Regions from separate parts of the Homo sapiens genome. Here region 1 is linked to region 2. Evidence: fine-mapped QTL for protein levels in blood plasma. A gene starts in region 2. The other region holds a variant in brackets. All regions are shown on one strand. Distances are from middle to middle. Region 1 overlaps LRIG3 (leucine rich repeats and immunoglobulin like domains 3). Region 2 holds the start of LRIG3 (leucine rich repeats and immunoglobulin like domains 3).

Region 1 (15,753 bases), 42 kb before region 2:
ACCTGCACGTTGTACACATGTACCCTAAAACTTAAAGTATAATTAAAAAAAAAAAGAAAATATGGTTATATTCATTTTTCTGTGTATATATGCCTGCCATGTAATTACATTTTTCAATGAATACTGTTTTAAAACAAATGTTTTAGTTTTATGTGCTTAAGTAAGATATTTTATACTTAGTTTTTAACCAAACCTTGATGATCAAAGAAAATATTTTGGTAATTGTTCAAAAATAGCTTAGAAGTACCATTTATATACAAACTGCTCTTCCAGCAGAAAATCAATAAAAACAGAAAACAATTCTAGCAGCATCTCATTACAACCTGGAACAGTGCATGAAAGTCCACTTCTGCTAGAGCCATTTTAGCTATAGACATATGCAATAAACCACTCGCTTGCTGTAAGAAAAGGGACGGCAAAAGTGAAACTACTTGGATAAGCATAAGGCATTAGACCACGTAAACCATTATTATAATTAAAGAAACATGAATTGAGCAGTGATTTATGGTAGTTGTACTATATTACACCAGATTATAACAACAAATCTTTTTTTGTTCGTAGATTTAGAAATAATGTACCTTAAATCTCTGTAGCTCCTTCTCGTTTACAATTGTGCTTTCATATGCACAATCTGATTTCAATCTGTATTACAACAATCCTGGGAGGTAGAAAAAACGGTCATTTTTGTTCATACTTTAATGGGCTAAATATAATTCCCATCCGTTTGAGACATGATAATGTGAACTAATTAAGCCTAAATTGTGCTAAAAATAATAAAAATTGTTATTGTATAAATGGGGCTTGGCATCAAATTGACACATTTTATTAAATATAATGTGCAAAATATAATGAAGTAACTTCTATTTAAAAAATGGTACAAGGCAGGTATTATTTAAAATGCTTTAGTAACTCATTTTCCATAAAAAGAAATCTGGCATTATAAAAATACATAAAATAATCATGATTTATATCATTAATTTACGTAAGATACTTTTTTGCATAAAACAAAGTTAAAAAATAGTTTAAAAAGGTATTCTTATATGAGCATCATTCCCAGTATAAAAATTTTCATAACTTTTTGTAATTTTGGTTCATCTGTATAAATAAAGCATTTTTATCCTTTTAAAATTCATAACTCCATTTAAAAAACATAAGATTCTCTCTCTTTTAAATAAAAGTTCACTTGAGGTAGTATGTTAAGCTTTTCCTTTGGTCTCATTCAGTCTATGTGTCCAAGTCATAAGACTGAAAATTTGGAGTCCTGTAGTTTTCTAAAGTCTGTTTAAAGGTACAAATGTGATTTTCTTCCTGAAAATCTGTCCTTTCTTTCCCATCTTCCTCTGACCCAGAGTCCAAGTCTGGGGAAGAATGAGCTTTCAAATAAAAGGCTCTTGGCTGACAATCTGATGGCTGTCCAAAGCTTGAATAGGCATCTAGGTGAGGTCTCCTGAGAGCTTTTCCAAAGGTACCTGAAAGAAAGAAACACCTTGAGCACATGGGTCCCTTTGCTAGCATGTGAATCAATAAAACCCATTGCAAATGAAGGAACATCTTACCCCATGAATATGAGTAAGTGTTTTCTACAAGTCCACATTATGGCACTCACATACATGTACATCTGTCTTACAGCCAGATCACTTCTAGAATGGAGCAAAAGACATTTGCCTTCCCTCATATTTACATCCACTGAACAAATGCATCTATTCTTTATCATTTCTCATGACCTGTAGTAATGTTAATGGTCATGCAATAAAGTTCCCCAATATAAGTTTCCCCACATCCTAGCTGAGAGCCCAATTTTGGTGACGGGTGTGTTGGATGGTAACATCCAAGTTAACTGAGGCTAAATAAAGAAATTTTCTTTCAAAATAAACCTGTGTCCTGCCCTTTCTTCATTAATTGTAGCCAAATATTACTCAATTGAATCAAATTCTTGCCTCAGTTATACAAAGCATATTATTTTAATTTTTTCCAAAAAAGGAATATAAATAATTACACTGTGATAAAACATAACATTTCGTAGAAGTTGGGTAAAATATTTGAAAATTCTCCTTTTTTAAATTTTATTGTCAACATGGCAAGTTGTGGCTGATTTTTCCATCTCTCTGTTCAGTGAAAAGATGACCTCAGCTCTTCCATCCTATTATCCCCATGCATCAGACGAAAAAATTCACTACCTAATCTCAGTGCCAGCCAGCATCTAACACCACCGACTTGGACCTTAAGGCTGGTTTTCTTGGCCAAAGGTAGTCCAGCTTGTCAGACTAGCAGTTGTTGCTAGGTAGGATGTTGTTTTCCACCCTTCGACTGCGGGTTCAGTTGGAAGCCACCAGACATACCAAACCACAATCATGCAGAGCACACAACTCCACCCCAAAGGCCGTGGGAGCCCAAAACCACTTTTTCCACATGGCTGACAAGCTGAGCTCCTAAGTCCTCCCCAAACCCTTGTCTTGGAGTAGATGCCACACACAGTGCTACCCAGAAAGCTCCTGAGGCTTAGTTATAGATTAAACACATCATCAAGTAAAATCCCACCTCTGACTTTGCTTTTGGAGGCATTTACACTAACTAGTCGGATGTCATGGCAGCCTCATTCAAGAAACCATTTTTTACCAGTTTGACATTCAAGGCTGTCATTGCTCTCTCACACACAACTTGGAGTATGGATCCTCAGACGAGGTACCTGATAACTTAATAAACTTACCCATGAAAGAATTACTCGAGGCAACCGACGCTGGCTCTGGATTTGCACTAAAATCTAAAGAGGACTTGTTTAGACACAGATTTTTCATTCCAGGTCCTTCATTGTGAGAGTAACTAGTGTTAAGTAGCTTCCTCACATGTGAAGGCCACGATATATTACTGAAGCTCCGTTCGCAGGATTCTTCTGAAGGATGAGAACATGGGTAGCACTCCTTTTTCTTTATGTAACTGGGCTCATAGTGGTCCATTAAAACTGTTCTTGGGTCAGGACTGCAACCTTTTTAATATGGGGGCAGTAACAGAAGGAGATTACAGTTAGCACATCTAGAAGTCTCTCTAAGAAACAGAACTGTACTCAAGCAAGAAAACCACCTACCTGTATGATATGTTTCAAAAGGATCTGAGCCATACACATTTCCCTTCAAATACATAGGGCCTGTGGATCCCAAAAACGGACAAAGGAACAGATCTGTGGCAGCTTCCACATCAGCTTCACTGCTATTGTCAATATGGCAGGTCCCTTTGAAACAAAAATCTTAGTCAATGATCCAATTATTCAAGTGCCATTCAACATTCTCCCCAGTTTTGGCATCTTCCATATTTATAGATGAAAGTTTGACTAGAACATCATATAGACAAAAAAATTGCAAAAATTTACAGTAGGGTTTTAAAAAATTTATTAGAGGACTTAATTAGCCATTGTGCTAGGTGTGGTGGCCTTATTGCTCACTTGGTTTCTACGGGAAACTGATATGTGCAGATCCTGCAGCCAAAGCAGCCATGGTCTAAACCACATACCATCAGCACTGTCCCCTTCTTACAAAAGGTCCCAGATGACCAGAACCAGGATTGGCACTTGGCCAATGACCTCTTAATGCCCATCTCAAAGATAAGCTCAGCTAAACATATCATCTCATGAGTATCTGAACCAAACAACACAGAAATATACGCCATTTACTGCTGGACACAGCAGGTGAAGAGTAAATGATATCATCAGGGTTAGAGATGTCACGATGACGCATGTGTCTGGGAAGCAGAAACTGGGCAGCAAGAGGTGGTGGGCTGAGAGAAAAGCAAATATGCAGAACGTGACACAGTAATGCTGGTGGCCCAGAGCTACTCTGGGAGCAGCCTCATCTCCAGCCTCAGCATCTAGGCAGCCTGGCATTATTATGCCCCAGTTCTGTCCCTTTAGGTTTTCCTTAAGTGTCTTTTCAGTTAACCCCATTATGCTTTAATGAGCTTGGGTCTCCACTCTGCCTCTAAACGGGTCTAACCAGAATACTCACTTCTATGCTCAGATCCTGTAACTCTACGCTCTTTATTTCTGGCTTGCCAAGCACTTTTAGTTTATCCACCTCTGACGAAACTGTGAAATTGAAAACATATACTTCTCTCCCAACTACAATGTCTGGCACAGAGCGTATAATAAATACTTATGGGAAAAGTTGGTCATATATTTTAGAATAACATCGATGGCTTCCACTTGCTGAGCCCTTAATATGTGCCTAGCGCCATGTAGTTTTCCATCTTCATTTCATTTGCACAAGTACCTCACCAGAAAGTATTGTATGTGCCCCACAGTACATGCAGTAAGTAGTAGGTCTTGTACCAAACCTGTGCTCTTGTATTATGCTGTCTCCATTATTATTCTCAAAACTATGCAGCATTGAAAGCAAGGGTCAGAATTAGACTTCTCAAAGAGGCTGGGTGCGGTGGCTCACGCCTGTAATCCCAGCACTTTGGGAGGCTGAGGCAGGCAGATCACCTGAGGTCAGGAGTTCAAGACAAGCCTGGCCAACATGGCAAAACCCCATCTCTACTAAAAATACAAAAACAAAAGAAAGCATTAGCCAGGCGTGGTGGCATGTGGCTGTAGTCCCAGTTACTTGGGAGGCTGAGGCAGGAGAATCGTTTGAACCCAGCAGGTGGAGGCTGCAGTGAGCTGAGACCACGCCACTGCACTCCAGCCTGGGTGACAGAGCGAGACTTCGTCTCAAATAAATAAAAATAAATAAATAAAAAATAGACTTCTTAAAGAAAATAATGTAAACCATTAGACTTTTAAGCCCATTCATGTAACCAGTTAATATCATTTAAGGGCCAAAGAACATTTATAATGTAAAGGATACACAAATATCCTTTACACATGGAATAATTACATTTTTCTAAACCTACTAGTCTTTTTTTATTGTTAGAAACAAAGATTTATTTCTTTCCTAGTATTTAAGAGAACGGTATAGAACTATACAATTTCAACCTTGCTAGTGATCTTGGGCCAGGTCCTAAATGTCAGTGTTATCAATGTCTTGTGAAAATGAATATCATATCTGAGCCTTCCACCATATGACTTCAAAACAATTACAGCCCACATTCATTTTAAACACTTACCACTACTGTCATGTTGTGGTAAGAAAAATCCAGCACCTGAAGATGTGACAAACTGGTGGTGGCTTCCACTTTCTGAAGACACGTACCCATCCTGCCTGTCAGCTAACGTTCCCTGAGATGACAAATAACTAGGAATATCTGCTGGCAAGTTGGTCTCATCTGTAATAAAACAGCAGCATTTTATTAACCAAGGATGATCGTTAATTGTCCCACAGGCATCCCGGGTGAATGGCATAGACTATTTTGGCTTCTGTATACATCAAATTAGGGGAGATCTACTCTGGCAAAACCATCTCGATTGTACAGTATTCTGGAACGGCAAATTAGGGCTTTGCTGCTCTGGGACGTATAAGCTGACTTTCTGTTTTATCACCCATTGGATGCACCTCCCAAATTTCAAAACAACAAATGTTTAAACAGATTTTTTAAAAGGCTGAAGGCCTAAGAATTTTCATGGGACAGTATCTAAGCTTTCGAATTATGCTTGATTATTGCCATATTCCCTTCTTAATATTACTAATCAATATCTGACTTTGCACATACTAATCAAGTCACAGCTCCTCTTCCACTAATAAAATCCAACCTAAGTACATGCACATACGCACAGACAACAAGACATACAACTACTGCAGAGAGTAAACCTTATCATTAAAGGGCTGTTCCTGGTTCTCCATCACTATCTTATGAAGGAGTTAGAAATATTTTAGTCAGTGACTTGGATTTTATCTCACAGCCACAGGATACCCTGATGTCATTTTAACAAAAAGTATTAATCTTTAAACATCAGCTTTATTTGGGGCTGGAGTTTTTTAGCGAATCATATTTCTGCAGCTTGAAACAAATGAGTCACCCTTCTGAGATGAACTCAGACTGCAAGACACACGTTCTAGAAGTATTTGCAGAACCACAAATACACATGACTCCGGTGACCTGTGCCAAGCTTCTGTTTACACACCTGTGTTGGTAATGCTGCAATCTTCATTCCTCCGCCTTGTGTGGTATATGATGACCACCCACACGAGTGACGTGCCCACCACACAGCAAACCACGGCTATGATCACGACACCCACAGTGGCCCATCCGTCATCGTCTAACGATGGGGCTGTCATCTGAGGGGAGTCGCAGGTTGGAGTGGGGATCACACTGAGGCGCACGTTTCCTCTCTCAGTGCCAAGGGTGTTAGACATCTCACATGTGTATTTCCCAGCATCACTGACATCTGAGTCCACAATAATCAGAAGCTGATTGCCTGCTGCAAAAAAGTGCCTCTCGGTTACCACCAATGGGCTATCATCTTTGGTCCAGTTCAGTTTAGGGGGAGGGCTTCCTCCAGCAATGCACTGTAGGACGGCTGTTTCTCCCTTGGTTACAGTTCGGTCCAACAGTGGCCGCAAAAATGATGGTGTTTCTGAAATAACAAGTTATGCTTTTAATTTCCCAAATAAAATTTAGTTTCCATATCATAAAATGTAGCATTTAAACTTATTCAAATTGTAACCTAAAATTTTATTCTCCCACAACTTACTGGACACACTTTTCTAAGAGCCTAAACATATACAACATTCAGTATTTCACTATTCTGCTGTCATTTACTCATAACACCAGTTAAGGATAATATCTACTATTTTTAAAATCTCAGCTTCCCTCACTTTTGCAAAAGTCGGGAAGCTGGTAGTAGGGGGGGAGAGTGGGAAACAAAAGCTTTTTAAAAATAGAAAGTACAAAAATAATTTCAAGCACAAGGGTATGTTGATAAATAAAAAAAATCAGAATGCTTAAGTTTTTTAAGTGAAACTTTTTAGGGCCGGATGCCTGGGCCTATATTAAAACTCTGACAATAATTTACTTTTATTATTTAGTATCTTAATAGGTTACGTTAATTAGCTCTTTCAAAGATACGTGAATAATAATTGTGTTTACATTTTTAAAAAGCATTTGTTTAGGTAAAAGATGAAAAAAAAACTCTGACTTCCGGAGAGGTATGGTAGGCTGAGAAAAGAGAGTAAGGCCTTCCCAATTTGTTCCCACATTTTTTTTTAATGTTCTTTATGGTGTTAAGACTACTGATATAGACAGCACAGTGGGGAAATTAGAGGAGGGTGATCCCCCATAAAAGGGAAAGCATCCCAACTTTTCCTCGGCCCCTCTCTTCAGGATGGAGGGGGCAGGGATTCACCTCAGTGGCCAGACTTGAGGATGTCATGCAATCCCTGACTTCAAAGTGTTCAAGAGGCCATTTGCATTAATACTTTCTAGGAAAAGGCAATGCCCCATACATCTTCATCTCTTACTCTCACAACTTCTGATACTTAGGGACCTTGGATGAGCTAGTATCTTCAAGACTGATTTATACTACAGAATCTTAACAAATTCACCCACCTAGGACAGTCAGAGTTGCATTTGCTGAAATACTTCCTGCACTGTTCTGAGCTGTGCAGCTGTATACCCCAATGTCCTCTATCTTCACATCCACGATAAAGAACACGTCATCCTCGGGCATCACATGCATGCGTCTCTCCCGTGCAGCTGGGAAGTCTGTGCCCCCATCCTTCTGCCAGGCTATCTGGGGGGCTGGGTGCCCCACAGCAGCACACTCCAAGCGTGCCATGGCCCCAGCTCGGATGGTGAGATCCATGGGGGTCTTGGTGAATGAGGGAAGCACTGAAATCAGAGAAACAATATAGGCATTAGCACAGTGGAGTCTTACAGGTTCACTTGCATTCCTTTTTATTATTTGTTTGTTTGT[T/C]TGATACTTACAGATTGTCCCTGACATAGATTGGGCAGGGGTTAATTCCAATTTCAAGTCAAGGAAACTAAAGTTGAGATGGAAAGATTAAAAGGCTTGCTCAAGGTTACAGATACAGAAACAATGAAGTCAGGATAAAACAGAGGTCATCTGATTCTCAGAATGAAGGTCTTCCTGCTATTTTCTGCCACTTTTTAGTTTCCTCAACAATCAACTGTGAGATCTTGGGTGTATCAATTAATCTCTTTGTACCCTGACCACTCACTTCATCTATTTTTTTTTTAAAGTCTCTCCTGGTAGCTCTAACATTCTGTGACTTTTAAGATACATGTTTTGCCCTACAATTTAAACTCAAAACTGTTCTATGTGCCAGGCCACAGCCATCATTTGCTGAGTGAATGCATTAATGAATCATATTCAAAATCTTCTACCACGGCAGATACAGATAGTTAAATGATAAAGTGGCAAGGATCCTACTGTAAAACTGTATACCTACCACACAAAGCAAACAAGAATAGACTTCTGTTAACAGTGGCTAACAGTGCATTTACTGAGCACTACCTTGTAGCCATTTTGCTACATCCTTTACACATATTATTTCACTAAATGAGCATAATGCCTCTAGGGGGCAGGTCCTATTATCCCTAATTGAAAGATGTGGAACTGGAGGCGGAGAAGTGAAGCAACCTGCTGAAAATCACGCAGGAGTGGCAGGATTCACACACAGATCTCTGAATTAAAGGCAGTGTGCATCCAGCATGATGCTTTGCAGCCTTCCAGATCAGTATACTACACTGTAAACTCTCAAAGAGGAAAACATTGCTGGGCACGGTGGCTCACACCTGTAATCCCAGCCAGCACTTTGTGAGGCCAAGGTGGGCAGATCACAAGGTCAGGCGTTCGAGACCAGCCTGACCAATATAGTGAAACCCCGTCTCTACTAAAAATACAAAAAATTGGCCGGGCATGGTGGCGCACGCCTGTAATCCCAGCTACTCAGGAGGCTGAGGTAGGAGAATTGCTTGAATCTGGGAGGTGGAGGTTGCAGTGAGCCAAGATTGCAACCAGGATGTCATCCAGCCTTGGGTGACAGTGCAAGATTCCGTCTCAAAAAAAAAAAAAAGAAAAAGAAAAAAAAAAGAGCAAAAACATGTCTGGTTCATCTCTGTGTTACTCACCACACTGAGTACGGTGTCGTCTTCAACATAATTGCAGGTTTAGATACAAATAACCAAGAATCTTAATTTTGTGGAATGAAAGGTAGGGAAAGGAAGAGTCAGGTGGGGAACTGTGAGAAGAAAAGACAGGGTTAAGATTAAGAGAGAAAAACAGGTGCTTTCTATTTCTAAAAGGTATCTTTAAATGCTAAAGGAAAAGTCAGATCACATACTATTTACTGTAAGCTTGGCTTTGACAGAGTAGGATGAACCAAAGTGATTGGAGATGACACACTGATATTTCCCCTCACTGGCAAATTCCACCTCGCGCAGCCGAAGGATGGTGGTATACTCCATCACCTCGCCACCTTGGGCCCGGAGGTGTGCATAATTTTCCATTTCAGCATCATGCAGTAGTTCATTGTCTTTTTTCCAAGCAAAAGTCATTGGGGAATCACTGCTGCTGGCAGCTGAGCAGATGAAACTCAAATTGGAACCTTTTATTGCCGACTGTGTTTCTGGCTGAACCGTGATCTGGGGTTTGGGAAAATCATCTGTTAAAAATGGAGAGGAGGAGACAAAACAATGTTAAGGCTCAAGAGTCCAAATACTACTCAAATTTGAACACCAAGAAATGCAAAAACAGTGGCTTAGGTTTTACCCTTTGTGTATGTTTTCCAGATGGACTAGCCGTCCCCATGTTGAAATGATACACTGGGAGAGTATTTATAAAGTAACTCATTCATCTCGAATACAGATGCAGATCTATTTATCAATCACTATTACCTGAGAAAAGACTGTTATTTTGGAGCTATCGGAAAACCCACACTTTATTCCTGATCCCTTATGCTTTCTATAAGTAGAAGAAGAAAGCAGTTTAAAAACTTCCAGGCTCAGGGATCATTTTTGAATGCTACTATCAGAAACTGCAATTGTTCCCATGTTCTCCCCAGATAATGAGCAGCAAAATTAGGAAATCAAACATCAATCATGATTAATCAACAAAGACAGCCATTAACACTTCATTTACCAAAACAGAACCACTATTTAAAAACAGTAATTTAGGTAGAGGCAAAAAAAAAAAAAAAAAAAGCTGATAGCAAAAGAAAAAGCATCTGTAAAACAAACTGTAAGACACTGGCTTCAGCCTGGAGCTTTGAGCGGCCAATCGTGCCGCCGCGCTGCCCTGTCAAAGCTACATTATAATTAGAGCTAAGCAACTCTTTCATTCTAACAGTTATTTTTAGTTCTCTGTTACATTTTGGAAAAGTTACCTTTTTGAACTTCAGTTTCTCAGCCATGATCTAAACCCAGAAGGAAACATCTGAGATCTACCAAAGCGTACCATTTGGGTGCTACTATTTGAAAAGACAACTTTTTATGTGTATTGAATGGGTTATAGGGGATGCTTTGATAACTCCAGGGCTGCTATTTTTCAATGTCTGCATATTGTAATCGAGGTGTTTTCTGTACTATTCTGAAATTCTCATCTAATAAATCGATGTTCAGATTCACAAGGAAGTGAAAAAAACGATGGATACTATACATGTGTTTCAACGTAATAGGGGGATCAGATCTTGGGACTAAAAAACTATGAAACAAGGACCATGGGAAAGGAGCAGTTCAGGCCCTTACAGATGAATGCCAAAAGCTTATTCAGTTCCAAAAGCTACATCAGAGGTTTTATTTCCAGAAACTACTGGCACTGCTTAATGCTGCAACCTAAAAATATATATCGTGGACAAAGCAGTTTTAAGTAAATTTTTAAATGCCAATGCAAAAGAAGGTTCTTAATATTTTAACACCCATGCTTAAATAAAAGCAAATTCTGATTTATTGGTTTATAAAACATATTTATTTTTACAGAGGTCTCCATGGCAGCTAATAGTAAATGGCAGCATCATGTAATAGACAGAAAGTTACACCAGAGATGAAAACTTTTCTTTTAAATCCAGATCTGCTACTAACTAGCTATGTAAAGTTCAGGTAACTAGATTTCTAATGCTGAGATTCTTGGATGCTAAAACAATGGACCTTAAAATTATTTATAATAAATTCACATTTCCTATTACTTGTAAATGTTTTACCGACCAATAGTTAATTTTTTAGCACCCCATAAATCATTAATAATTTTCTCTTTCATGTAAACCTCCCAACAAGCCTCAGAGTTGGGAAGAGAAGAAAGGAGAGTCCCCATTTCATGGATGCAGAGACTAATATTTAGGGAATTTAAGTTAAGTAGAAGGGCTGAGATTACCCTTCCATTCTCCCAAGATCCAATTTCATTCTCATTCCACCGCACCATCCTGATGCCAAAACAAAGATGAAGCAATTTTAGAAAACTCTCTTTCCCATCTGTGAAATTAAAATAATCAGCAAACTATAGACCCATTTTCCTCTACCTCAGCAGAAATAAAAGCTTTATAAAGAGATCATAAATCTATTCAAAACCATTATTTGGATAAATGGGAGGGGGAAAAAAGAAGAATAAATAAAAGGCAAGGGCAATACTTATACTCACCACACACAAAGCCATCTGGGCTAACAGCAAAAATGCTTCTTCCTTTTAGCAGCTGAGGATGGGCACAACTGGCATTTACAAAGCTCTGAAAGTTGTTTTCCGCCACCCACTGTGGGAGCCATTTTAGCTGGCAATCGCACAAAAGGCTTGATGTATTTAAATGCCTGAGGAGAGTAATTACATTCAATTTGTTCTGTATGAAATGCAGATTTCTACAAGTAAACTAAACCCAAGTAAATATTAACAAAGCAATGAATTTGGAAACTGAATACACACATCCCATGGAATAAGTATCCCACAGTCCATTTTAAAATACAAGAAATGTATCTAGCATGATTTTCTGTTGTTCTTACTGTCCTACTGAGACAGAAGTGTTGATTTATCAAAAGTTCCTTACAACTGAAAAAATTACTACTATATTGGGTGACTGTACTATATTTGGTCCCACAAAGTTGCGAATTTAAAATAGAAAGAAAAACTCATTTCAACAAAAAGAACAAATAAACTCCTTTTCTGTTGCCTAGTATAAAAATTAAGTAATGTTAAGAATGTGCCAGGCACTTTTTATAGATACATAATCCAGGATGCCACACCATATGACAGTTTTCCCCTCTATACTTTCAGACTCCTAGAAGGAAAAGAAAAGCTTACAATTGTTGCAGTTTCTTCATTTGTGAAAATGCATTGCCTTGTAAAGACATGATTGCGTTGTCACTCAGGTCTCTGAAAAATCACCAAATCAAATGCATCAGAGCAAACTACCATCATTTCGTGCTTTTGGACAAAGTTTGGGCCCCCACTGCCCACCCCATTTGCCAAACAAATACTCCCTCTATGTGTCAAATACATGACTGGGGCAGCCCCAGAAGAATCCACTGCAAAGCTTGTGCTGAAGACCCAGGGCATTTGTATCACAGATAGGTTTTGTTTTAGTGAAAAAGATTCACTTTCTGTCATCACTTAAAGATTATTTGACTCATTAGGGCCCATGCTGTTCTATTATTTCATTCTATTACTCTTTATTCAAATTAGCAACTATTGGAAACTTCTAAATATACAAATAAAATATACAAATAAAAAATAAAAATAATTATGCTTTTATAAAACATTTACACAGTATTTTTGAAGATATGCACTCAGTTAAGTGATTTACAAGTGTTACTGCATTTATTCCTACAACAACCCAAAATATGATGGTATTACTACTTAGCTCAGCACGAAAGGGGAAGGTAAGGGTTGAAACAATTATTTTCAATTCCAAAACCTGTGCTTTTAACCATTAACCTAATTCTGTCACCCACAGCTCACTAACATAAACGCAGTAAGATGTTCAGACAAGATATACTTGTTAAAACCAATACTTCAGGCAGGAAATTCATAAAATGAGCACATATTCTGGATTAATTCTCTTTATACAGAGACTTATAAGCACTCTGCATTAAAGTATTCACCACAATGATTACCACTCTGTTTTTCTTTACAGGGGTCACAGTATACAAAGGGAATATTGAGTGAGACAAGTGGGAAGAGAAGACAAAGAAAGAAGGGACCAGACATGGCTAGACGAAGAGGCTGGGGCAATCAAGGAAGATTTAAGAAAACTGAAGCAGAGATTAATACTCCACTGATCCACTAATTCCACGTTCCCAGAAACGGAATGGGCCAAATGACAAACCCTTTTGGCTAGTTTTCTTTTCAAAATAATCGGTTTCAATAAATACTGCAATGTTGGTCTGCCCTTCCAAAACTCAGCTTTGCAGAATCATTCTACTATAATTTGAACTGCCGCACTCACTGTCTGGGTGGCTCACGATCCAAGTCTCCCTCAGAGGAACTGGTGCAGTCAGAAGGTGACAACACAGTGGTTTACAGATAACAGCTAAATCTTCACTCTCAATACACAGCACACATAGGAGAACCCAATATGTATTTTAAATTGTAACTTCTTTTGTCCTGGTTAATACATATTAAAACTTCTGGATACAAGCATTCCTTAACAGTCAGAGTCGATATTATACATTACTTTGTACTTTTACTGTACAAGCGTAAAACATACATCCATGGTTATAAGCAGCTGGTTGGTTCCCTTAGTTAAAACATGCAAGTTTTGATTCCTATCAATGTTAGCTAGCTTTCCTCTCTTAGTGGCTGAAAATTCCTGAGCCCCTAAATGACATTTCAGAAATGTGTGCCAGGAGTTACTAGGAGCTACTGGGAGTAGCGGCAGAGATTGTACAGGCAAGAGCTAGTGTGATGCAGGGACACTGTGCAAGTCGGGGCAGCTCTGGGTTGCGTCCTGCTTCTGACAGCTACTAACTGGTGGGTCAAGACGAAACAAAAGAAAACAACAAAAAAGAGAACAATGGTAAGGGGGGGTTGTATGTTTCATAATTAAACAACAATAAGAGACCAACAATTCTCAAAGTAGTGCTAAAACTCTCCTATGTCACTCTTAAGGATTGTGGAACATTGTCTTTGTTCTTTAAAAGCCAAGTCATCTCCTTTAACTGTCCAGTGGAATCAATAAACTCTTAGAACCTCCGCTTAACAATAAAGATAATAATAGCTATTGAATTGTATTCTGACTAAGAATTAAATGAGAATATATGTGAATATGTGGTACAATGCCTGATATATAGTGGATGAACTACACCTAGTAGTTTGTTTTTTTTTTAATTAAATAATCACTGTTTGAGAAAAACAATTAAAAACCCATTAAGGAGATATAGCTTTTGTTCTTAAATACAAAGGAAAGCATACACCTGTATACTTCTATATAGGTAGGTAGGTAAGTAGGTAGACAGAGAAAGAAATAGAAAGATAGGGAGATGTTTAAATATATTTTATGGAACCGGAAGGATGCCAACAAAATTACATTCCAGTTTGTTTTATCTTTCATGACACATAAGTAAAAACCATCTTAGAGATTCTCTTTTAGGGTAACTAAATTCTAGCTACTCACAGATGCTCCAATGCATCCAAACCAGTGAAGGCTTTTTTAGTAATAGAACGGATCCGATTTCCTTGGAGTATCCTGGGGAAAAAAATTACATTGGAGCACTTAATTTAAAAAGCCATTTTGGGGTGGAACTCTCATAAACAGAACTGCTTTTTAAATTATGTGTGAGCAATTCCATTTTCTTCAATTAAACAATATATCCTGTAAAAATGTGTCCATGCCATCTATTTCAATAATGTAGTCGAACATGGTTTTTGAAGCATTCAACAAAGAGCCCAACAAAAATAGGTATTCAGTAAGTCACTCTGCTGATTAAGTTAAATCACTGTTTTTCAGAGTCCTTTTAGGAATAGGTAGAGACTTTATTTCAAGTAAACTGTCTCAGAACACTAACAAAGCAGATAATAGTGAACGTTTTCTCCTTCCTCTCCTTCTCTGTGGATACCTTCCATCCATAGGAGTTTGGGACTATAGGGAGCTGAATTTGAATACTGCTGGCTTAACACATGTAATTTGACCATCTGCAAGACCATTTTATGGTTAATTATAAGATGTTTTCATCCTGTTTTGCTTGTAACCTACCACAGCATTATCAGTGGCTACTAGATTACTTCATTAAAAAAATTCCTACGGGGACAGTACAACATTGAGGATTTCAAGATGTGGAAGTGCCTGCACTAACTTTTACGCAATGATAATTCCAAAAGTGTAAGCCCTCAACATAGATGAAAATTATTATGAGGATATTAAAGTAAATTACACATACTAAAATGTTGAATAAAACACTTTCACCTAAGGAAGAAAAAGTTAATAATATACATCTTGCGCAACAGCAGGCATTTGGGGAGAGGATCAAGGGTGGTAACCAGATTAAGCACTGATTTCTCATCTCTTCATGATGTCAACTTGTATAGCTGACTTCAGTGAAGACAAAATTTTTAAATCAAAGAGTGAGCTAAATTATGAGGCAATTCATACTCACAGTCGCCTCAGTTTGTCAAGCCCAGAGAAAGCACCATTCATGTCTTCAATAGTCCAGGAAATTTCATTGTTCTTCAGATCCCTAATTTTAAAAGAAGCATTCCCTTTAGAGTGATAAGCTCAGAAAGCCTAGTATCACCACCCAGGTGGCATATCATTTGTAAAAAATTTCTCATAATTCCCCACATTATCTCCACCTCTCTCAAAATAATAGAAAACTCTTTTTCTCCAACTTACCTCTTACACCCTGCCTGATTCCCTCAACAACATTTTAAGTTTTTCCCTAAAATCC
Region 2 (15,753 bases):
ATGCTACCTTTAAATGCTGAAAGTCAGAATTATTCCAAAACCTACGTCAGTGCATGTATATACAACGTTACCTACACTAAAAATACAGAAAACTTGGTACAACCTTAATTGTATTTGAAAACTCATATTTGCAAAACAACCTGCAAAGTTATTTCTGTCTTCAGTCACATATTTACTTTTTTTGAGTTGATGTCTCTGAACTCTGATTTACACTGCAGGTACCACACTTAAAACAGGATACTCCAATGGCTTATTCTCAACTCCGGTTTCTCCTCACAAAGCAACTCTGATCATTCTCCACTAGGAACTACGTAATACATAACCCACAGATCCCCATGCCAACCATTGAGCGATACTAAAATTAAAGTCCTAGTCTACAGAATACGATAAAATACACATTTCTATGGTGTAAAGCTGGCCTCTTTGAATCTCGAAGACCAGTTCGGCAACAACAGCAAAGTGTAAAGTGTGTTGTTATAAGAATACATGAAATTTAGCAGTGAGAGAGTTAGAGGCTAGAAAACAAGTTAACCAATTTAAAGCGCGTATCTTTACTATGCCCTGAAAAAAATATTCCATTTTTTTCTTCTAAGATCTCTATGCTAGTCCCTATGGAACTCCCACTCAAGGTTCCTGCAAACATACATGAGGAATTCTGCTGATATTCACTTACAAGGAGAGAAGTGTAATATTTGCCGAGACTGGTCCCAGATTTGGAATGGTCTCCAATTCATTGTTGTTCAGTTTCCTACAAATGCCAAAAAAAAAAAGAAAAAGAAAAGCTGATTAGGTAATCTGTAATTCACAGAGGTGAAAACTTTACATATTATTTCAAGATACCACCCAAGTTAAAAGTTTTGAATAACTCACTATAATCCAAGTATTCCTTACGGTTAAATAGTATAAGGGGTAACGTATTTTACTCAAACCTTAAAAACAAAATAACGAAGACTCACACTTCTCGAAGGCTTTGAAGGTGGCTCATGGAACTTGCCTTGATGAAAGATAATCTGTTGTGACTTAAGTCCCTATAAGAAAACAAAAATAAAATTATAAGTCATTTCTAAAAATCACTAATAGTGCTAACTGGGCTTATGAAGTATCTCTATGAACACCAGTGAGAGCAGGAGAAATAATTGGTCTATTCTGTCCACAAACTAGATGGCAACCAAAATGCCAAACTCAAAAATACAAGCTCCAAGGACAAAATTAGTTTAGGGAGACTGGCAGATTCAAATACTTTAAGCCCACAAATGTTTTAAGAGATGTTTTTTTGGCACGTGGTGAACAGATCTTTTGTGAACTGGCAGGTCTGCTTCACCCTCCCATCTCCCCACTCCTAACCTGATATGATGACATCATGGTTTAAGAAAAGGAGCTAATTAGGCAGGTTGCTGAAACTAAAGCCTCTATAGAAATCTTTTTATTGTCATACATTTAAGCATCAATGTCCTTATTGCAGTCAAGGAAAACAGAAATTGCTTTGCATACATATTTGTTTCTCTGCGTTAAAGCACCAAATCATTTAAAGCATTATTTTGTGTGTGAGTGTTGAGAGGGTAGAAAACAATCTGAACCCTCTGCTTTCTTAAATTCCCCAAATATCAATATCTGATAATATAAAATTTAAACCACATCGCCATCTAACAAAGTTCAGCAGATTGCACAAAAACTTGTGAACAGATTTCAATCATTAAAATAAATGTGCTTCTTACTCAATAACTCAATTTAACTTAGTAACAATTTCCATAGAACATCATTACTATTAAAAACAATAACAAACTCATACATATACAATACTCTAGGCTAGAAAGTCATCTCATTTAAGATTCAAAATATGGAACAAATTCCAGCAAATATTCTTGGTTATATTCCCCATATGTGTTAACACATTGACTATGTGCCTTCAAAATAGTGTAATAAAAATGAAATGGTTCCAGAGTGATGAAAAACCGGGATAACAAATAGTATGGCTTGAAGCTTCCCACTGAAAGGGTTATCCAACCCATACTAATTTTTTTGGTGTTTAAAACGGAGTTTTTTAAATAACCAAAGTTGATTGGAGAAAAGCATGAATTATTTGTTATATGCATAAGTACACCCCTCCTAAAAAATAAATAAAGAGAAATCACCTCCAGAGAAGCACAGTGTTACTCAGTGTTTAGTTAACAATTAGAAATCAGAGTTCCTTTCAGTCTTTGAGTTTCTGTTTTGAGAATAAACCTGGATTCTCTTTTTCACCTAAAAAAAAAAATCTGCAAGGTTTTATTTGAAGTATGTTTGCCCAAAGACCTACCAGACAGTGACAGACATGAGTAGATTTGTTCTGGTAGAGTTATAACATGAAAAAAATCTGGCACAGTCTTTAAACTATAAAAATCCTGCAATTACAACCACTGCTGTGCATGCTCACCACGCTGGCTGGAGCCAGACACTTTCCCTTGCAGCCCAGCTCAAGTCCATCTGGAGTTCATCAAGGAAACCGTGAGCCCAACAACTCACGTTAGGATTCAAACAAAACCTGTGTGCTTTTAGCACCCCAGACAGTCACAGATTTCCCACATGGTTTAAAAAACAACCAAGGAAAAGAGTCTTTCACCTGGGAGGTAGCCTGAGTCAACAGAAAGTCTCATTTGGACCCACTTAACTAAAGAGCATTGAGCCAGCGTAAAACTGCATCCCCTATTGTTTCAGGTCTTAAAAAGAAAGGGGAAGCAATCTGGCATTAATATTTAACACAGGTGATTCTCTTTTTAATTAAAAATAAAAAAACACTAAAACTGAGGATTAACTTCATTTTAAGGATTATTTCACAGGGCAATCCTGTGAGAGAAATGAGACGGAGTGCTTAACTTTTTTCAACTAGTAATGGGATAAGATTCCTCCTACAAAAGACCTGTAAAAAATAAGAAACTCCCTTCAGAGACCAGTGCACATGCTGGGGACCCCTCATTTCTGATCCAGAAGCAGGAGCTTGAAACTTTGAATATTTCAGTTATTGCAACACATTTCCATTCTTGAGTTTTGTGTACTATTAAAACTACATTATATGTAGGAGGAAAAAAAACACCCCTTAAATGACATTTACTGCTAAATACTTACAGCTATGAAACTTTTAGTGTACCTAAATTTAGATTTAATATAGTTTACATTTGAGAAATGATTACTTTCCAGTTAAGGGATGTCACATTTTCCTAAATCTTCCTTACATTGTTTTTATGGCTAGACCATTAAAAACAGATTCAAGTTGTACAACGTCGATGTTTTCTTAAACCCAGATCATAAAACATTCAATAAGAAAGGCAGATTCTTCATGTTTAGAGTTCCATTAATAGCATCTTCCCCACAAAACTTTTACAAAAACTTTTTGTAGTGGGGTTAATGAATGGGAAAGGTAGTAAGGTACGGAAGTGTTAACTGTACCCAGAGCTCAGCTGGCCAACACTTGAAAGTCAAACTCTTTCTATATGGTTAGACAGACTTCTCTCTTCCTGAATATTAGCAAATGAATAAATATATATGAAAATAATCAATTTGCAACATTTGGTTCAAGCTGTCATTTTCTTCCTTTTAGCATTTGGAAATCTGACTTCCAAGTCAAATTTTAAATGCAAATCCAGCACAGCTTCTTAAGCAATCCCACTGGGGCCTGCAGAGCTGCTAATTCAGCACAAATCTGGAAAGCTGAAAAACAAAAAGCCAGGCTATAGCTGTTTTAAGACACTGATCCAAAGTGACTCATAAATCAGCCTGCTATATTCAAGTTTTAGTCTGGAAAATACAGAAAAACAGCTGTGAAAACCATAAGGACTATTACCCCCACCCCACCCCCAACTGTGGTCCGGACCATAAGATTTATAACAGGTCAACACTAAAGAAGTCACACCAGCAGAAACTACCTTTGGGACTTTCGCCTGGGTCCTGTTGAGAACTCAAACATTTCTACATAAGACAAATAATTCTGAAATGCCAGTGAGAATTTAATAATACTGGAAGTTCTCATTGGCAATTTAGCAACTTTTCCGTCTCTGGGCTAAATAACATTCTAACAAGCATTCCTCTTTAGGTTGAGAACTGTTTAAGCGCAAACTCTTGACATAAACTCTAGCTTGCCTTTAATGGCAGTTGTGAGCAAGGCTTGGCGTAGTTACTGGGTTGTTTTTTTTTAGACAAAGTCTCGCTCACATAGTTACTCTTTAAGAGCCACTTTCATTAAAGCATTAGAGGTTATTTTCTAAAAGGAGTACTGATACAGTATTATTATTTTACAGCTCAAACTATTCGACTTTTCACACATGGGACTCCTATAGTAATAAATCACAACCAAATAAAGTGGAAAAAATACATACACACGTAATTTTTCTTAAACTTGCAAATTCAACAAATGAAACAAAAGATAGACACTGAACTTTTTCTGAAAAGTGCTTTCATAAGCCAGTCCAAAGACAAACTCCTACTATTTTGATTACCCAAGGAAAGGGAAGGTAAGATATGGGGAACAAAAACATGCATTTTTCTATTTATATCTGAACTCGGAAATCATCTCCTTAAGACGATTTTTCTAATTACGAAAAACTTTAGTAGCTTTTTAGACCACCTATTCTAAAATACCAAATAACAGAGAAAGTAAAACTCAATTCCACGTGTTTTTCTGCTCCTTTCAAAAGTGGAAAGAGGAGACCTCTAGAGCTTTAGGTACAAACAAAAGAAATATTTACAATAAAGAATCCAGACCACATGGTTTGGTGACACCTACAAAGATGGTTAAAAGTCACAGAAGTACAGGAATGACAGAGCTGTCCAATAAGTGATCACAGCAGGGTTCCTGACAACAGACTGAGTGCTTATTTATACAAGTGGAACTTATTTTCACATACATTTAAGGAATGTGGGCTAGTATTGAGACAATTTACTGCTGGTGGAAATGTAATTAAAGACTGTGCTAACCAAATAAACTCTAATTTGTTTTTAGTGTGCCACCAAATTATCTGCAAAACAAAATCCTAATTAGGTCAGCTACTTTTAAGACAATGTTTAAATAGGTATCGAACCCCTTTTGGTTCAACTCAACTTCTGATCAAGGGCAACACAGATTTTTTTTCTAAACATCTAAATCCAGGAAAAAAGAAAAAAAGTACTGCACACTAGCATGATCACAATAGACAACTTGACATTGAAAAACTATCGAATACAAGTTAGATGCCGTGAATAATCTAAGCATATCTAAATACACTCCAGGAAGCACTGTATTCATTTTCTCTTTCTCATCCCTCTATTATTCCTAAGTGTTCACCTCCAGTCATTTACATGTTCAGTTCCATATGTTGTCAATAGAGCCATTCACTCATGAATAAGGCAGCATGACCTCCACAAGAGGCAATTTAACAGAATTAGCCACAACTAATTGAAAGTCTCCCTGCTTTCGGTTAAAGACCTTATCTCCTCTTCCAATTGCAATAAAAACTACTAAATAAAACGTCCCAAGAAATTAAATATCAATCCAATACTAATTCTACTTTATTAAACTAAGGCTTATTAAAAACACAAGGAATATACTTTCTGATGGCCAACAATTCTACATTCACAAAAGTTATTTAGATTAGCACAATAATTTTAAAATATAAATTCTTAAACACCTGACCAAACCTCCTACCACATTAGGGCATTGGAATAGTTCACTAGAATTGTTTTAAAAACTTAAAATTTTCATTGCAATTCTGCTAAGTCAAAATATAAGATTACGTATGAAGTGCACTTTTATTTTAAACAGAACAACTACTTTAAAAAATACAAATTTTGATTGTTTACTTTTTACAGCACTCCAATTTTAAAACTGGGACTGAGGAAGAAAAGAGATGACATTTGGAAAAGATCAGCATTTCCAACTAAATTACATTTTCTTCCTTGTTCTTCACGCAGTTGGCAGTGATTTCAGGTTTTCAGACTTCGCAGCTAAAAATCCAAAAACTTGCATAAGAGCTCCCTGCGCTCTCCCCTAAACCGTCTGGGCGTTCTGAGGAGCTACAGAAATCACGCCCTTGATTCTGGATAATCGAGTTCCGCCCTTTCCATAGCTACCGACCAGTCTTTACAATCTGGTTGAGGAGTGGGAACTTACGGTCTGCTAATGTGAAAAAGCAAGCAGAGGGAGAACAACAGAAGTACGTCCACCATAACTTGGAGAATGACCGAATTCTGTTGAGGGGGCTTCCCAAATGAAAAGCCTGACTTCAGTTACTGGGTGGGAACAGGAAAAGGAGTCTGACGCAGCTAGAAACTAAAACTGAACCAGACTCATAACTCAGCGAGAACTGCAAACTCCTGATGTGTGCAGGTTGCCGCTTATCTCCCCTGGGCCTGGCAGGAGCAAGCATTTGAACCCCTTGGCTAGCTTAGGGCGCAGGACTTCATCCCCAATCTCTGGCGTCGTTACTGGCCCCCAACCCTGGTCTACCTGCAGCCAGTTAGGACGCGCCAAGAGCCCACCTGCGCCGCCCGCAAAGCACGTGGGAGGGAAACTGAGGCCCGGACAGTTCTTTTTCCACGCCCACGGAGCGCCGATCGCGGCCTGGGCCAGAAGGAGCTATACGGCAAAAAGGGGACTGCACGCCGAACCCCATTCCCCGCCGGCTCCTGTTTTCTCGAATCTCCAGCGGCCCGGGCCCCCTCCCCCCGCGGGAAGAATACTTACAGCCGAGCGACCCAGGACGGGAGTGGCTCGGGAAGACGCGCTAGCCGCTTACGACTGCAGTCCAGCAGGTCCCCGAGGCAGCGGCAGGTAGTGGGGCATGGGCGCTCGGCGGCTACCCCAGAGGGCTGCCCGAGTTCCCCGCGACCGCCGCTGTCTGACCGGCCAGCGCGCCCCAGCACCGCGCACAGCAGCAGCCCCAACCCCGCGGCGCGCGCACGGAGGCTCGGCGCGCTCATCGCGGTCCAGCGGCCTAGGTCTCTACCCGAAGCTCCCAGCCGGCGCGCGCTCGGGGCCCGGCACAAACTTCCAGCCGAGGGTGCACGCCCGCCCTCGCGGTCGCGTGCGCGCTCCTCCCTCGCGCTGCCCGGTCAATTCCTTCTTTTACTCCCGGCGGCGAAGCCCTTTCATGCCCCCAAACAGCAGGAGGGAAACCGAAAAGAACTGCCAACTGCAACAGAGTTGCAGCTTGAGCAGCGTCGGCTCGCCGAAGCCCCTTCTTGTCTGCAAAAGAAACTTTTTCGCCTCCACCCCGCGGCACTGCGCCAAGTCCCCGCGCGGCGGAGTAGCAAGGCGGGCGGGTAGAGGCCGACGCGCGCCCATTGGCCGACTCGGCTGCGGGCGTCCCCGTGGCCACGTGACAATAACACCGCTCCAGCCGGGGGCCTACGCGCGGGAGAAAGTGGAGCTGAGATTGTAGGAAATTCAGAGTTATATTTTCCAGCCTCTCCAGCCAGAAGTCTCCACTACGTCGTGGGAAACATATATCAAATGGAGTTGAAAGGCAAAAGGAAGTGAGCAAATACTGGGCTAGTTCTCGGAGTTGGAGGTATTTAGGAGAACTTCAGGGAAGTAAAGTTTAATTAGCAGTGTTTTCAGGAAACTTTTCAATTCCAAATTAAAGACACTGATAAATTATCCTACCATCCACAGATGAAAGAGTGGTTTCAATGAAAACAGCTCTTTCAACGTTAATGCTGGTGGGTGTTCCCCCATACATCGGCTTCAAAAGTAAAAACAATAATAAAACGTAAAACTCGTGGTTTTGGAAAGTGTATATTGAATTACAAATAGCCAGCCTTCGTGCACTGGATAAAGCTGGGCGGGGTGGGGGATGGGAGATGACCTTCTAATAGACCTCGATGGCAATCATAGATTCCTGGTAATAGTAATAATAAAAGTAGTCACAGTGACATTTCAAAGTAAAATGAAAACTAAGACCTTGGAGGAAAAAATTAGTATATGCACCTTGGTCCACTTGCGCTTTGAGTAATGACACATGTTGATTGAGAATGCTACCAGGGTAAAAGTACCTCCCGGCCTCCTCAGCTGGGGGAGTGGATGTTTGGGGCTGGATTCAGGCTACAGGACTTCCCAGTGAAGTTTGTTCCTTAACTTACAGGTGATCAGCGCCACAAGATGTTGAAACTAATGGAGACCGCAGAGATCATGTGCTAAGGGGCCTTCCTCCTCTGGGTAAGGAAATAGACCTAGAGAACGTAACTAATGTGTTTGTTGCAAAAAAAATAAAAATAAAAGCAAGACAGAAAACATGAACAAACCAAAAAACAAACCCTGGAAGCTTAAAGTAAGTTTTCACTTCTATACATTGTTTATTGCATGCTGTCTGCCCAAGCTTGTCTGTCCTTGGAGTTGCGTAAACTGCTCATGATTGAGGAGTGGAGATAGCTTGTGGAGTTGAGACTTTAACCCTGACTCTAAGGCCCATTGATTTTTCACTGTAGCAAATCACTCCCACTTACGGGGGAAGGAAAAGACTCACTTTGAAGTTAACACACCCTATTTTAGATATGGTATCCCATTTTCTTATTTCCAGCTACCATTAACAACAACGCTACTACCTTTTTGGATGATGTATAATTATAATTAGAAAATATCTATAATGATGGCACCTTGGTTTTGAATTTATGATTTTGTCTGCTTGGGAGTAGACAAAACACACTACAGTCATAGTAAGGATTTTCCAGCTCAGTATCCCCCATCTATTTTTATTTATTTTTTTTATTTTTTTATTTTTGAGATGGAGACACTCCAGTCTGTCACCCAGGCTGGAGTGGGGTGCAGTGATGCGATGTCGGCTCGCTGCAACCTCTACCCCCTGGGTTCAAGCAATTATCCTGCTTCAGCCTCCCAAGTAGCTGGGATTACAGGTGCCCACCACCACACCCGGCTAATTTTTTTGTATTTTTAGTGGAGACAGGGTTTCACCATGTTGGCCAAGCTGGTTTCTAACTCCTGACCTCAGGCTATCCGCCCGCTTTGGCCTCCCAAAGTGTTGGGATTACAGGCGTGAGCCACCACACCCGGCCCCCCATCTATTTCATACAAGGAAAATTAGGTATAATTCATTGAAGTTTTTAAAAAGAAGAAAGATTCCATTGTACACATGCCATTATGCATAAGCAAGGTAACATCAGTATGGAGGCTTGCTCTTGAGACATGAGACATATGACAGGGATATAAATGTGCTACCATTTTGGGGAGTTTTGGCTCATTTCCTTTTCTCATTCTTTATTCTCCTTGTATAATTTCATCTTCTTCCATGAATTCCATTTACATTTACATGCTGACATATACAACATCCATATTTCAGCCCAGGTCTTTTTCCTAAACTCGAAATCCATATGTGCAATTACCCACAGGTCATTAAAAATTGGATGTTCAAATGTAACATGTCTAGAATTAAATTTCACCACCCTTGAAACTGACTTGTTTCCTCCTGAATTCACTGTCTTAAAGAGTGGATACTTCCCTCCATCCAGATGAATGCCCCAGAAACCTGAAAGTCACCTTAACATTACTTCATTCTCACCACCACCACCACCACCACCAGAGTCAATCAATTAGCAAGTCATGTTAAAGCTAGCTCCTAAATGTATCTTCTCTCTGTAGAAATTATGCAAATCCAGACCACCAGCAGCTCTTGCCACCTATCAGGCATTCCACTGCTTTCTCCTCAGGGCAGTTAAGTGATATCTCTGAAGGTCAAATCTGAGCCTGTGACTCAACTGACCAGTTCTTTTCTTGGGTTCCTAGTGTCTTGAGAATAAGGTTCAAATTCTTTAGAGTGACTTATACAGTTTTGTTTGTTTGTTTTGGCATTGAGCCTCTATTTATCTCTTTAATTCATTGTCTTTCATCATTTTTCTCCTACTCTAGGAGCTACTTGCAATTCTCTTCCCAGCTGTACTCTTGCCTTCAGCCCTCTTGCAAATGGTTCTTCTGTCCAAATCATTCTCTGCTCCTTCTTCTGCCTGGTTGATGGCATTCCTTCTTTGGCAAACACTTCCCTGAGTCAGGTTTAACTATCTATACCTCCAGTATACTTCCAGCACATCAGTATTGACTGGAATGTAATAGACCATTTTCACTCTAACCCCCAGGTAATACTACAGAATTTTCCGATAACCATGTATTCCTTATCGCCTTTAAGGGTTTTACCAGCTATTGTGAAGTTAAATTACCTAAGTTTTCAGTACCCCAGTTTCTCAGTCTGTAAATTGGGAATACAATAAAAAACGATCTTATCTGGCTGGCTTCCATTTATCAGTTACTGGATTAGCAGTCACTCTGTTCTCTCTGTACAACCTGACTGATGCCTATGACCAGCTGAAATCTAGAAACTACCAGCCTCTCCTTAGAACAGCCTTTGCATATTTGCTCCTACCTGTCAGGTGCTGATCCACAGTAGTTACAGACTTGTTTATATATATTATTAATGTTACACAATATTGTGTAAACCAAATACAAGTGCAACAAGAAAATACCTTTATTTCTATGATAATGAATTTGAAGGTTGGGAAAGATTCTTTAAAGGTAATCGATAAAACAATGCTATCCAATTAGATGAAGATAAGACAGTTGTAAATATGGGAGGAGGAGATTACAAATATCTAGGAGATTTTTTTGGAAAGGTTACTTTGCAAGTAAGATCTTGTTCCACTTTAATTGTATTTGGGAATTAATCAACAGAGGACGTTTTATGGGTGTGGCTTAAGCTTACTCAGAACTTAATGGGATCATTGAGAGAGTAAAAGAGGATGACATGGAAAGAATACAGCGCACATTAAAAATCACTGTTCTACATTTCGATATGTGCTTAACCATGTGGTCAATACAAAGGGGAACTAGTCCTACATGAAAACTTAATTTTTTTATTTTTATTTTTTTGAGACAGGGTCTCACTCTGTCACCTAGGCTGAAATGCAGTGGCGGGATATTGGCTCACTGCAGCCTCAACTTCCTGGGCTCAGGCGATCCTCCCACTTCAGCCTCCTGAATAGCTGGGACCACAGGCGCATGCCACCATACCAGTCTAATTTTTGTATTTTTAATATATGTATATATAGATATATATATATATAGAGAGAGAGAGATGGCGTTTAACCATGTTGTCCAGTCTGGTCTCGAACTCCTGGGCTCAAGAAATCCATCTACTCGTTTCGGCATCCCAAAGTGCTGGAATTACAGGCATGAGCCACCTGCCTGGCTGAAACTTTACATCAATGTAATATTTTCACAGGCTTCTCAAACCTTTCATGAACCACAGGGCAGAGAGAACTTCCACTGGGTATCCATCTGGGCAGATGAGAACTAATATCTTTTGAGGTCCCTTACAGCTCTGTTCTGATTCCTTTACAGTATATAGAAAATAGGCGTGAAGGCAGAGTGACAGCAAAGATAGTTGTAATAGAGGAAGAAGAGGTACATAAAATTCTGTTTAATCTCCCAAAATGTATCAGGGAATAACAGTGACCTAGAAACAGGATTAATGTATCACTGAATTCTCTGATACTCTTATGATGTCATTTTCTTGTATACACACACACACACACACACACACACACACACAGAGGACACAGTGCTATCAAATGTTGAATCTCAGTTTTTGTGGATAATGGCTTACAAATAAGAATTTAGTATGAGAAAGTCAAATTCATTTTGACCAGAGGTCTTTTAACATTTGAAATAAAATGAGATAAGATGTTGGATTTCTCTACTCCTTCAGAGGTTTACACTGGTTAACCAGGTAGTTGGAAGTTAGCTTTCCATTGGAAATTGCTGAGATCACACCAGACAGTTTCTCGTTTCCAGCTGTGTCCCAGTGAATGGCAAGTTTCATCCATTTTCAAAAGGGTCTCCTACCACCCATTTTGTGGTGAGCATAACCCAATCCCAGTGCTCTTTTTAGTTTTCCTGGTCTTTTTTCTTTCTCTGGCAAGTGTGAGACTTTCTTATCTTGAGTGCTGGCAAGGCCAGTGACTCACCGATAAAAAGTAATAGAGGTGCTAAACTGTCAGTTTTAACATCCAAGGACAAGAATGAAAGCTAAACACTCAGTACTTGCTTTATCATTACAATGAATGACACAGTTTGTGTAAGTGGGAGCTGTGAAAAGGGAAAAGAGATAAGGCAAAGGAGGAAGAAAAGCACAAAAATCCCCAGATAATGATGCCAAAAGCAAATGTTGCTGTACTTTGTAACTTAACCATATCTTTTCCCATTCATTAAGGCATTTTAGAAGAAATAGATAACCTTCCTTTCTCTCTCTCTCTCTCACACACACATACAAACACACAAAATGCACAGCTTCACTTAGAGAGCAGATTACTTTACACAACCCCTGCTATGAACATGTCTTAACTTTCAGAAAATATTTAGAAAAATAAAGATAGCCACCCATCTGTTTTTCTCAAGTTGGCCAACTGTGTGATATTATTTGAATTGAAAACAAACAGTGTTATCTCAACTGCAAATTAATATATGCTATTTTGTATTTTACTCATTTCCCATGTCACCGTCTGGGAATAATGTGAGCTCTGAGGAAAACTCATACTGTAGACAACACTGGATATCCTGGAAATCATTTTGGAGCTGCTGGGAGTCTGGAGATGGGGTAGGGAATGGGAAAAGGGGGAGGGCGCCTTCAGCTTCCACCAGACCCTCCTTAAGGCAGAGTGTCCTTCCCAGCAGTAGAGCCTTTGAGTGGTCTCCAGTTTTCCCATTCCTTTGAGAACCTCAGAACACTTTCTCTTCTTTTTCCAATCCTTGCTTCTTCTTCTTCTCTTTTTTTTTTCTGTAGCCAGCTGCAATCCTAAAACTCCACTGAGAATCTCAACTCATGTCAAATAGCCTACCCTGTCAGGAATACAGAAATCTAAATGCTTGAAAAATTGTCAGAGAAGAAGCGGGGTGGTCAGAAGGTGAAATGCTGTAACTTTGGATTTCCTCACACTTCTATGCTCCATTTTTCTCACCTGTAAAATCCAGTGAAAAATGATACCTTGCTGTACCGTAGTACAATATTTTGTAACTATAACGTCCCATATAGATTCTAGTTCCTATTACTTCCAAATTGCTGTTTTCATTATTCAGGGAGACAAAGTGAGTGCGCTACGGAAACATCCCACTGCTGAGATTAATTTCCAATGGAATGTTGGGATTAAGTAAACCTTCAACTATTAATATAAAATAGAATGAGGAAAATAATATTTAATTTTAAAATGAAAACAAAACTTAAACCACTTTTAACCTTAATACAAGGCTCTAAATCTGTCTGTTATGACAGCATACTGTACATATTCTGAGATTTTTTTTTTTAGTAGGAATTTTATTATGCCATCTCAAGAAGTTACTGCATAACTCAATTTGTTATGATTTATGCCATGAGTTCAGAAAGAATCATTAGGCATATTTACTAAAAAGACTTATATATCCCTCCTGGGAACTTTTTGCAGAATGTTTTTCTCCCACTTCTTGGATGAACAGTTGGCCTATGCACTATTCTAAGAATTAATTTGCATTTCAGAACCATGAGAGCACTTATACATGAGTTATTTATTGCTTTTATTTATAGTTTCATCCTCTTACACATATTACATTTACCCAGGCCTGACTATCAAATTATTAAGGTGACTTTGTCATAAACATTGTCAGAATCAAGTTCCCTGCACTGAAAGCTCTGCTTCTGTCCCTAAATATAAGGATTGCTATCGAGTTACAATATGATTCCACATATGTATTTTCAAATAGACAGTGAGGGATAATTTTGGTGGAATGGGGTCAGTTTCAGCAAGATGCTGTGCACCTGTCACAGTACGGACAGTACGGATACTTCCTTGATAACATCTTAAAATTTAGCCCAAAGCTTTCCACACTTCTGCTATGTGTATACATCCATGCAGAAAGATTTCCGCTGAAATACTGACGTGGAGCATGAAGATGCTCTGCAAGAACACCTCACTCATCTGCTTGCCCCAGGCACAACTGTGACTACAGCAGGAAACCTCTTCTGCTCCCACAGCAGTTATTTCAGACTTGAAAAACTTTTTTTTCAGTCAGAACATTCATCTTTACAGCCCACATAAATAAACTTCTGCTCTCTTGTCATTTGAATATGTTTGATCTATTTTTATCCTGGGCAAAATCGAAGCTGTCACCAGCAATATTCCTTAGCTATCTCTTTGCAAATTAAATAATTACAATTCTTTTTTTTTCTTTTTTTGAGATGGAGTCTCGCTCTGTCACCCAGACTGGAGTGCGGTGGCATGATCTCTGCTCACTGCAACCTCCGCCTCCCAGGTTCAAGTGATTCTCCTGCCTCAACCTCCTGAGTAGCAGGGATTACAGACACGCACCACCATGGCCAGCTAATTTTTTGTATTTTTAGTAGAGACGGGGTTTCACCATGATGGCCAAGCTGGTTTTGAACTCCTGACCTCAAGTGATCTGCTCGCCTTGGCCTCCCAAAGTGCTAGGATTACAGGCATAAGACACGGCACCCGGCCTAATAGTTACAATTATTTTAAACACTTTTGCATGAACACTACTGTTCTTCTATCTCACACTCTTATGTGTATCAGGGATGTCTTTCTGCTTATGTGCCTTATAGAAATGAATATGGAGACATTGAGGTATGAGGCCCTTTCAGCTATACAAATGATATTTGACATTTATCAAGCTCTTATTACTCTTACTATTCTCTAGATATTTGATATTATTAACTAATTTATTTTTTATAATCACCTTCTAAGTTATTATCCCCACATTACCAGATAAGGAAACAGAGGGATGGAGATGCTAAGGAATTTACCTGTGATGGAGTTGGGATACAAACTCAGTCAACCTGACCTCACAGTGTACCCCTTGACCACTATGCTACCCTGCTTTCCACTAGAGTCAGAAGAAGCAAGGATTTTCACTGTCTTCCTTAGTGCTAAAAAGGAGTTTCCAGTAGATTGAAAACAATAAGGAAAGTATGGACCTTGCCTGGTTTTTTGAAGGTGGTCAGTTGCAATCACTCCCCCTCCTTTTTTTCCTCCTTTCCTCATTGATCCAAAAAAGATTCATTTTATGCAGATGTATGAATCAATCACTTTAGGGTCCGATTTGTGAAGGTTGATGTCCTGCCCAGATATCAGAGTAGTGCTCCGAATCTAACCATTAGAGATGAACTATGGGGTTCAGACATTACTGTCTTTCTGAAGTCCTCTTTGGCAATATCAATATACCCTCACCTCCAGGAGTGTTACATAAGGTATCATTGACATTTTATGGTCAGTGTTCTATAAAACTAAGTTTGGCTCACAGGAGAACCTAGGTGGTTGGTAATCAGAAGAGGAAAAGGATGCAGAAAGGGAAACAGGCTTTTCTTTCTTCACAGTTTTGTCTAGGGCTGCACCTAATTAGGGGAACCATGAATGGGGTGCATGTGGTCCCACAAGTCCAGGGAAATGAAATATTAATGCTAGAGATTGTTTTTACTGTTGAGATACTTCACATGTGGTAACAGAATTTTTCTTTTTGTTTATGGGCAAATGCTAATTTTTATGCTTTTCTAACTTCTGAACAGTATAAGGAAAAAATTTTAAACAAAAGTGTCCCAAATTGGCTGAGTTTAAATTCTAGTTTCCCATTCAGCTTTTTATGTTTTGAGGCTGAGCTTCAAGTCCACTGCCAAAGGAACATCTCAGAGGCTTCCGTTCTTTAGGAGACTACCTGAGTCATCTCAGTGAGGCTTGAGTTAGAATCTTCCCTCAAATTCA

Evidence for each region. A credible set is the group of variants that fine-mapping cannot tell apart. PIP is the chance, under the fine-mapping model, that this variant and not a neighbour inherited with it causes the effect. Protein levels are from the aptamer-based SomaScan assay of Sun 2018.
Region 1: its variant is the best candidate, but not a certain one, in a credible set for the plasma level of the LRIG3 protein (Sun 2018, PIP 0.77).

What each region holds. Positions count from the first base shown.
Region 1 is chr12:58,871,348-58,887,100 of GRCh38, forward strand. It overlaps LRIG3 (leucine rich repeats and immunoglobulin like domains 3), which reads right to left. Exons shown (of 19, transcript NM_153377.5): 9 at 15,463-15,543; 10 at 14,484-14,555; 11 at 12,173-12,244; 12 at 11,522-11,685; 13 at 9,234-9,554; 14 at 7,477-7,758; 15 at 6,053-6,505; 16 at 5,098-5,256; 17 at 3,083-3,226; 18 at 2,708-2,983; 19 at 808-1,469. The coding sequence ends at 1,225. Among named protein-coding and RNA genes, the nearest start is that of LRIG3, 41 kb to the right of the region's middle. The variant T/C (reference allele first, on the strand shown) is at 7,844.
Region 2 is chr12:58,913,309-58,929,061 of GRCh38, forward strand. LRIG3 (leucine rich repeats and immunoglobulin like domains 3) reads right to left here and starts at 7,196. Exons shown (of 19, transcript NM_153377.5): 1 at 6,692-7,196; 2 at 957-1,028; 3 at 674-748. The coding sequence starts at 6,927. LRIG3-DT (LRIG3 divergent transcript) reads left to right here and starts at 7,396. Exons shown (of 6, transcript NR_183518.1): 1 at 7,396-7,482; 2 at 8,091-8,164. RefSeq lists enhancers at 6,093-6,362, 11,736-12,360 and silencers at 6,743-6,822, 7,243-7,352, 7,971-8,080.